Homo sapiens: one gene and its partner. The protein of the gene in region 1 purifies or fractionates together with the protein of each later gene. This does not show direct contact. Each region holds a gene or a part of one and is shown in the gene's direction. Other genes may lie near its edges. The genes, in order: RASGEF1B and COL1A1.

What was found.
Region 2: the proteins of RASGEF1B (region 1) and COL1A1 purify together in Homo sapiens (affinity purification with mass spectrometry; 2 studies listed by BioGRID and IntAct, with this or other methods). This does not show direct contact.

The regions. Positions count from the first base shown.
Region 1 is NC_000004.12:81,426,667-81,430,682, reverse strand, and holds part of RASGEF1B (ras-GEF domain-containing family member 1B), read left to right. Parts: intron 1-2,890; coding exon 2,891-2,915; 3' UTR 2,916-4,016. UniProt on the Homo sapiens protein: Guanine nucleotide exchange factor (GEF) with specificity for RAP2A, it doesn't seems to activate other Ras family proteins (in vitro).
Region 2 is NC_000017.11:50,195,132-50,198,631, reverse strand, and holds part of COL1A1 (collagen alpha-1(I) chain preproprotein), read left to right. Parts: intron 1-127; coding exon 128-199; intron 200-426; coding exon 427-471; intron 472-629; coding exon 630-683; intron 684-846; coding exon 847-900; intron 901-1,398; coding exon 1,399-1,452; intron 1,453-1,568; coding exon 1,569-1,622; intron 1,623-1,961; coding exon 1,962-2,015; intron 2,016-2,103; coding exon 2,104-2,148; intron 2,149-2,264; coding exon 2,265-2,318; intron 2,319-2,432; coding exon 2,433-2,477; intron 2,478-2,655; coding exon 2,656-2,709; intron 2,710-2,966; coding exon 2,967-3,065; intron 3,066-3,153; coding exon 3,154-3,198; intron 3,199-3,301; coding exon 3,302-3,400; intron 3,401-3,500. UniProt on the Homo sapiens protein: Type I collagen is a member of group I collagen (fibrillar forming collagen).

The DNA.
Region 1 (4,016 bases):
ATTGTGAAATGGGAAAAGTTCCCTTGTGCCCCTCCCAGGGCATGCGATGGGGGTGTGGTGTGGCTCCCTTCTTCAGTGCCCTGCTGCTCAAACCTCTAGAGGAGCATACCAGTGGGCAGGCTGTGGGGCTCCGACCCCACGGCAGTGTCTAGGGGTGAATGTTTATAGCTCTTGAAGCCCCAGTGGGCCTGTATTACAAGGCGCTCCCTTATTTTGCCATCTATAGGTGGCTTGCGTTAACCGGCTCAATTAGACCCTCTACCTTATGGCAAGGACAGAGGGCTTTCTGTATCTCAGCATTCTTGCCTCGGTGTACTGGAAGAATCGGGTCGCACATAGGCTTGGAAAATGAGTGCAAAGCTTTTTGTTTGTTTGTTTGTTTGAGACGAAGTCTCTCTCTGTCGCCCAGGCTGGAGTGCAGTGGGAGGATCTCGGCTCACTGCAGGCTCCGCCTCCCGGGTTCACGCCATTCTCCTGCTTCAGCCTCCCAAGCAGCTGGGACTACAGGCGCCCGCCACCACGCCCGGCTAATTTTTTGTATCTTTAGTACAGACGGGGTTTCACCATGTTAGCCAGGATAGTCTCGATCTCCTGACCTCGTGATCCGCCCGCCTCAGCCTCTCAAAGTGCTGGGATTACAGGCGTGAGAGTGCAAAGTTTTATTGAGTGGAAGTAGCTCTCCGCCTATGGGGGAGCCCAAAGGGAGATGTTTTTACACTGGAGTGGGGCCACTCAGTGGCCCAGGCTCTCCTCCGACTGCGCCTGCCAAACTTCGCCTCGTCCCGCCAGTAAGTGGCCTGCCAGTGTGCTGGCGTATGTCGGTGTGCCCATCTGCCAGCGTGCTCCCCTCAGTGTCCTCTCGACGACCAGCCGCTCCTCAGACTGCCCCTGCCAAACTCCGCCTCATCCCGCCAGTCTGTCCTGCGTGCTGGCATCTTTCGGTGTGCCCTGCCGGCGTGCCCTTCTACCAGTGTGCTCCCCTCAATGTCCTCTCGACGACTCGCCACTTGCGTCTTCTTCAGCAGATGTGTTCCTCACCACGTCCAGCTACTTGTGTGTCTGTCTGCCGGCGGTCTCGGGTTTTTATAGGCCCAAGATGGGGGCGTGGTGGGCCAGGGTGGTCTTGGGAAATGCAACATTTGGGCAGGAAATGTCTGTCCTCACCTAGGTCCGTGGGGGTTGAGCCCTAGCCAGGGACCTGCCTTTCTCTACCCAGCACTTCCCTTCCCCATTCCGTATCATTTAAAGGGACCGTGCTCTTCCCCTCCCAGCACTCCCGTATCAATTGGTTGAAATGAAAATTATATTCTTTGGTATAAAAGACAGTTTCCACGTTAAAATTGTTTTTTAAGGAGCTTTGAAGAACAGCTCTCATCTGTGTTGGTGTTCAAGCCACACACTCTGCCTTTTCCATATCCTGTCTGTTCTCATGGCCCAGCTCCAATGCCTCCCCCGTCCCTGGCCCGTTTTTCCCTAGAAAGAATTTCTCCAGAACTCATACACTCAGGAGGCACTCTTCCTCTCTCGTTACCAGCCATGTGGTTTTGTGTAGTGTTTGTGGTTTTCTCTATTGCTATGTAAGCCCCTTGAGGGCAAGCACAGGGTCTTCCCCTAATGTCTGCCCCAGCTCTGGACACAGTGTCTTGCTCTCTATTACTCGTCAGCCCATGCTCCTGTAGTGTCATTGAATGGTACTGGGTTATCGCAGGTGTTGGCCAAGGCATAGCAACCACGAAGAAGTTAAAACAAAATAAAACAGGCTATTATAATTTACAAAATACATACGTTAAGTGGATACTAAGATTAAGCATAATCATCCCTTGGTATTTATGGGGGATTGGTTCCAGGACCTCCTGCAGATACCAAAATCTGAGGATGCTCTAGTCCCTGGTATAATAAAATGAAACTTTCTGTTGCTGTTGTTTTCAGAAATATTCTTTTCTTGTGGCCATCAGTCTTACTGATTCAATAACACATAACCTGTTAGGGTAAACTCAAAATAATAAATAGATAATACTTGAATATAGCCATATGCATCCTCTCTTATACTTTAAGTCATCTCTAGATTACTTATAATACCTAATATAATGTAAATGCTATGTAAATAGTTGTTGTACCATAAATCATCTCTAGATTAATTTCAATATCTAATATAATGTAAATGCTATATACATAGTTGTTATACCATATTACTTAGGGAACAATGGCAAGAAAAAGAGTCTGTATATATTCAGTACAGACCCATATTTTTTGTTTCAAATATTTTTGATCTGCAGTTGATTGAATCCACAGGTGCAAAACCCACAGATAGAGAGGGCTGACTATATTCTGGAATCATTGTACCTACCTGAAAACTTTTATACATTAGCTTTGAAGGCAGTAAGATATTTTTACATAGATGCTTTTCTTGGTGGCCCTAGAGCCATTCATTGCAGACACGTAGATTCATCAGTGGCAGATACACCTCTGACGGCAGACACCCTTATTGTCAACTATTGTTTAAACTCTCCCAGTGTTCATGGAATGTGTTGTGAAGATGCTTATATCTACCAAGTAAATCTATCTGTGATAACCTGTACCTAAAAGCTCTTTATCATTAATGATCTTTGCTTTTTTTGTTTTTGTTATAATATAAACCTACGCAAGATATAGATTTATCTGTTTAAGCTTTTGCCATCTCCATTAATAAATGTTTGTTTTTTAAGTGACTGGCAGTTTTCCCAGAGAGCCAATAGGACTTAAAAGCTTGATTTTTTTTTTCCTGGTTTAACTTTGTAAAATCAAACTTAAAACACAGGAAAGATAAAATTAGTATTACACAAGGCATTTTCATCCTAGTTCAAGTAGTCTGTTACATTCTGTCTTAGGTTGTGTTGTTTTTATTACTCAGGTCGAGCCTCTTAGGCAGAGTTTAACACATGGGAGCTGCCTGCCTGCTGCTGCTGCTGCTTCCTGCAGATCATGGAGGGGCTGGCCTTTGTTTTCTGGCATCTCGTACCACGAACACTCATGAAGACCCTGCAGTCATTGGAGCACCCGGGTCAGCAAAGCACACAAGCTCACTCAAGACCAGATGGAGAACTTATTTCCTGCAGCTGACAGATAGACTCAGATTTTGTGAGACTGAAATGTTCACTGAAGACACTTGAGAAAGAATCCTCTAAAAATCCCGGCTCTGCACATTATTCATCTCCTGGAATTTCCATGTGAATCACAGCTCTGCACCTGGATGGAGTTTTCTTTTGTGTGTGTGTGTTTTTTTTAATTTGGTTGAACATTTGCTGCTAATGGGACTTGCCCAGCTGAGTGCTGGCTCTGAGGAAGCCCACGTTTCTTTTGTTAACTTAAATGAAGAAAGGAGTGGAGGGAGGGGATCTAAAACCCCCCCGTTTAGATCCCAAACCTTAGCTCAATCAGTATTGCCAGAGAGGGGTAAGACTGGTTGGAAGCTGACTGCAGACTTTGTTTCCCCTTAGTATGTGCTGTGTTGTAAATTTTTCTCCTCCCTCCTCCTACAAGGTTTTGAGTTGGCTGCTGGTTAGCAAACTCCTTTTTACCCATATAAGTTATTTAATATAATAATGAAGCTCAACACTGTGGTAGGAAAATAGCCACTAGAAAGAAAATAAAAAGCAGAGTTTGTCATTGGACTGCTTAACATGCTAGAAGGACTTTTTTTTTTTTTTTTTTTTTTTTTTTTTGCTCTTCTGAGCTGTTTACAACTGACCACTGTGTTCCACAGATGTATTTTTCAATAGCTTTTTGTTACTTAGTTTTCCATGATGCCTGTTATTTTTCTCTTGTAAATTTAAATGAGCTGACTTTAAGGATCTTGGGAAAACCCATGGCATAATTACAATTTTCTTTTTAATCGACTTTTCATTACTTTTGGGAGTCTGTTGGTAACTAAAGATGTCAACAAAGAATAAATTGGAGAAGTTACCTGTCCCCACTATAGCAGTAAACAAAACAGATGAAAAACACCTTGCTGTTAACTCAATGGTTGATCTAATTGT
Region 2 (3,500 bases), on another chromosome or scaffold:
AAAAGCAATGTTATTCTTCTCAGCACATCACACCAGGAAGTGCATGATGTCAGTTTCTTCCATCCTCAGTGCCGTCTTCTGCCTTTCAATTCACTGTCCTCACTCTGACTTCTCTTGTTTGTTCTAGAACTTTGCTCCCCAGCTGTCTTATGGCTATGATGAGAAATCAACCGGAGGAATTTCCGTGCCTGGCCCCATGGTGAGCCAGCAGGGGGAGCATGGATGACAGAAGAGAGAATGGGTATCCAGAGGAGGTGGGCATAGGCGGCTGGTATAGACAGCTTGGGAGGTCCAGATCACCTTTGGGACCTCAGAGTCCAGAAAGGATGCAGGACGACTGGGTGGTCCCAACAGGCATGAATGACTACATCCACATGCTTTCCTACAGAGGGATCACCATGACCCCCCTTTCTTCTCCCTCTATAGGGTCCCTCTGGTCCTCGTGGTCTCCCTGGCCCCCCTGGTGCACCTGTGAGTATCCAGGACGTCTTCATATGCCTCCTTGGGCTTTGGTCTTTTGGAGGGAAGACTGGGATGAGGGCAGGAGAGATGCTCAGAGATCTCTTGGTAAGATTGGAGAAGGTTGACAGGGACTTGTCTTCTAACCCATCTTTTTCCTTCTTCTCAAGGGTCCCCAAGGCTTCCAAGGTCCCCCTGGTGAGCCTGGCGAGCCTGGAGCTTCAGTAAGCACTCTCTATACAGATTCATACTCCTTCTACAAACACACAGACTCTCCTATAGAAGAACTCCCAGGCCTGGGGTCTTCCTTACCTCTTCCCTTCAATCCCAGCCTTCCCCTTCTTTTTTTCTTATCCATATTCTAACCACCTCTTCTATCTTTTCTAGGGTCCCATGGGTCCCCGAGGTCCCCCAGGTCCCCCTGGAAAGAATGGAGATGATGTAAGTATCCCCAGCAAGAAGATACCATCTGACCCCATGGCCTCCATGGGTTGGGTCCTGCAATTTCCACTCCACCACATTTGGGAACGATACTCAGAGGAAGGAGGGCAAGTCCTCTCTGATGCACGGACTGCCCTGGAACAATGATCTTTTCGCTTAGTGAGATGATTCCATGTCCCCAACAAAGTGACTGTTCTCCTCACCCCAGCCACCTTAGAGCAATCCCCAACCCCATCCCTTTGGGGAAATTGGTGCGCAGATGGTGAAATTAAAATGCTGGTGACAGAAGTAGACAGAAATTCCTTTAGAGGCACTCAGATTTCACCAAACGAAGGTTTCACTGTAGATTTAAACTGAGCTCTAGATTCAAAGATAAGATTCTGGGCCCCCAAACCTGACCTGCAACAATCCAAAGAAGACTGAGACCTTCTCCACTTTTCCAGCCCCTAGGCGGTGGTGGGGAGGCAGAGGCATGATGGTCTTTTCTCTCCCTCTCAGGGGGAAGCTGGAAAACCTGGTCGTCCTGGTGAGCGTGGGCCTCCTGGGCCTCAGGTGAGCAGGGGGCTGTGGCTGAACCTGGGCTTCACTGCACTTGGGCTTCATTTAGGAGCTGGGTCCACAGTGATGTGTTCTAATGGCCCTTCCTTGTCTTCTTCATCTCTCTCCAGGGTGCTCGAGGATTGCCCGGAACAGCTGGCCTCCCTGGAATGAAGGGACACAGAGTGAGTCACCTTTGAGTCATTTAAGCTCCCCAAGTCCCTAGCATACCCCCATCCAGTCCCAACCTCTTCCCCAAAAGATACTGAGTTGCATCATGGTGGGTGGCAGCTACAGAAGTCCCAAGGGACAGAGAGTGGACATCCAAAAGCACCTCCCTCCATGGGAAAGCAGTCCCGATTAAACGATTGGGTGAGATCTAGAGCCAGTTGGGGTTTAGTCTAGCTCAGAAACAAAGGGATGGCGGTGATGACCTCCCAAGGCTCTTTCTCAGATCTAGGTGGATGTCAAGGCTGTTCCACCCCCTCCACAGGTTCTTACCTTCTACCTCTTTCCTGCTTTAGGGTTTCAGTGGTTTGGATGGTGCCAAGGGAGATGCTGGTCCTGCTGGTCCTAAGGTAAGAGGCTGTCTGAACATCATGGTCCTCCACATCCCCAGAGTCCCACCATGAATGAATTTCTCACTCATTATTCTCTGATCTACAGGGTGAGCCTGGCAGCCCTGGTGAAAATGGAGCTCCTGGTCAGATGGTGAGTGTGCCCAGTTCCAGAGGGCAGGGATGGGGCAGGAGGCAGGGGCAAGATGGAGGCCTGGGGGAACAAGGCTGTCTCCCATCTCATCTGACTTCTCTTGGTTTGGTTGTCAGGGCCCCCGTGGCCTGCCTGGTGAGAGAGGTCGCCCTGGAGCCCCTGGCCCTGCTGTAAGTACTCCTGGCCCCTTGGGGGATCCCTGAGCTCTGGAAGGGGCTCCCCAGGAACTCTAGGGACTGGCCAGTGCTCAGTGGACTTAACGGGGCTTCCCCTCTCTCCTGCAGGGTGCTCGTGGAAATGATGGTGCTACTGGTGCTGCCGGGCCCCCTGTGAGTGTGGCCTGTAGGCCTCAGGGCCTGGGAGTGGGGAGGGGTCTCAGTATCTGCTCTTGGGGCTGACAATGGGAGCAGGTTATGTTGGTCTGAACCCCAGGACTTCCTCTGTCCCAGGGTGTGACTTGCAGCTGCCATCTCTTCCTTCTCGCTGACATCTCCATTTCATTCACAGGGTCCCACCGGCCCCGCTGGTCCTCCTGGCTTCCCTGGTGCTGTTGGTGCTAAGGTGAGACCCCCCACTCTCCTCTAAGCATGACCCTCATGGGCCAAGGGGTTCATGTCTCCCTGTTCCCCAAACCAAAGGGACCCAGAGTGGCAAGAGAGCAGCCCGTTCACTAACACCTTTGTCCTGGGTTCTCCGTCTCTGATCTTAGAGTCCTGATCATTGCTCTCCTGTCCCTGTCTCCCCTTCCTCCTGCCATCCCGAGAGGCAAGGTTGGGTTTCCCAGGGTGGCTTCTGATATGTCCTTTCTTCTGATTCAGGGTGAAGCTGGTCCCCAAGGGCCCCGAGGCTCTGAAGGTCCCCAGGGTGTGCGTGGTGAGCCTGGCCCCCCTGGCCCTGCTGGTGCTGCTGGCCCTGCTGTAAGTGTCCCCGACTCAGTGTCCCCTTTGCCACTTTCTAACCTCAGAGTCCTTGCCTGTTGCTGACACTCCTTTCTCTGTGCCACAGGGAAACCCTGGTGCTGATGGACAGCCTGGTGCTAAAGGTGCCAATGTAAGTATCCTGCCAGGCTTCAGTCCCACTCCTGCCGCCTGCAGCCTGCCTGCCCCTTTCCCTCTGCTCCTAGGCTCACGCCCTGGCTGTCTGCCTCCCACAGGGTGCTCCTGGTATTGCTGGTGCTCCTGGCTTCCCTGGTGCCCGAGGCCCCTCTGGACCCCAGGGCCCCGGCGGCCCTCCTGGTCCCAAGGGTAACAGCGTGAGTACCAAACTCTCCCTTCTGCCCACCCCATGCACTGGCTCCAGTGCGGCTCTCATCTGGGGAGCAGGAAGACGCAGGCCAACTGAGCGCCCCCGAC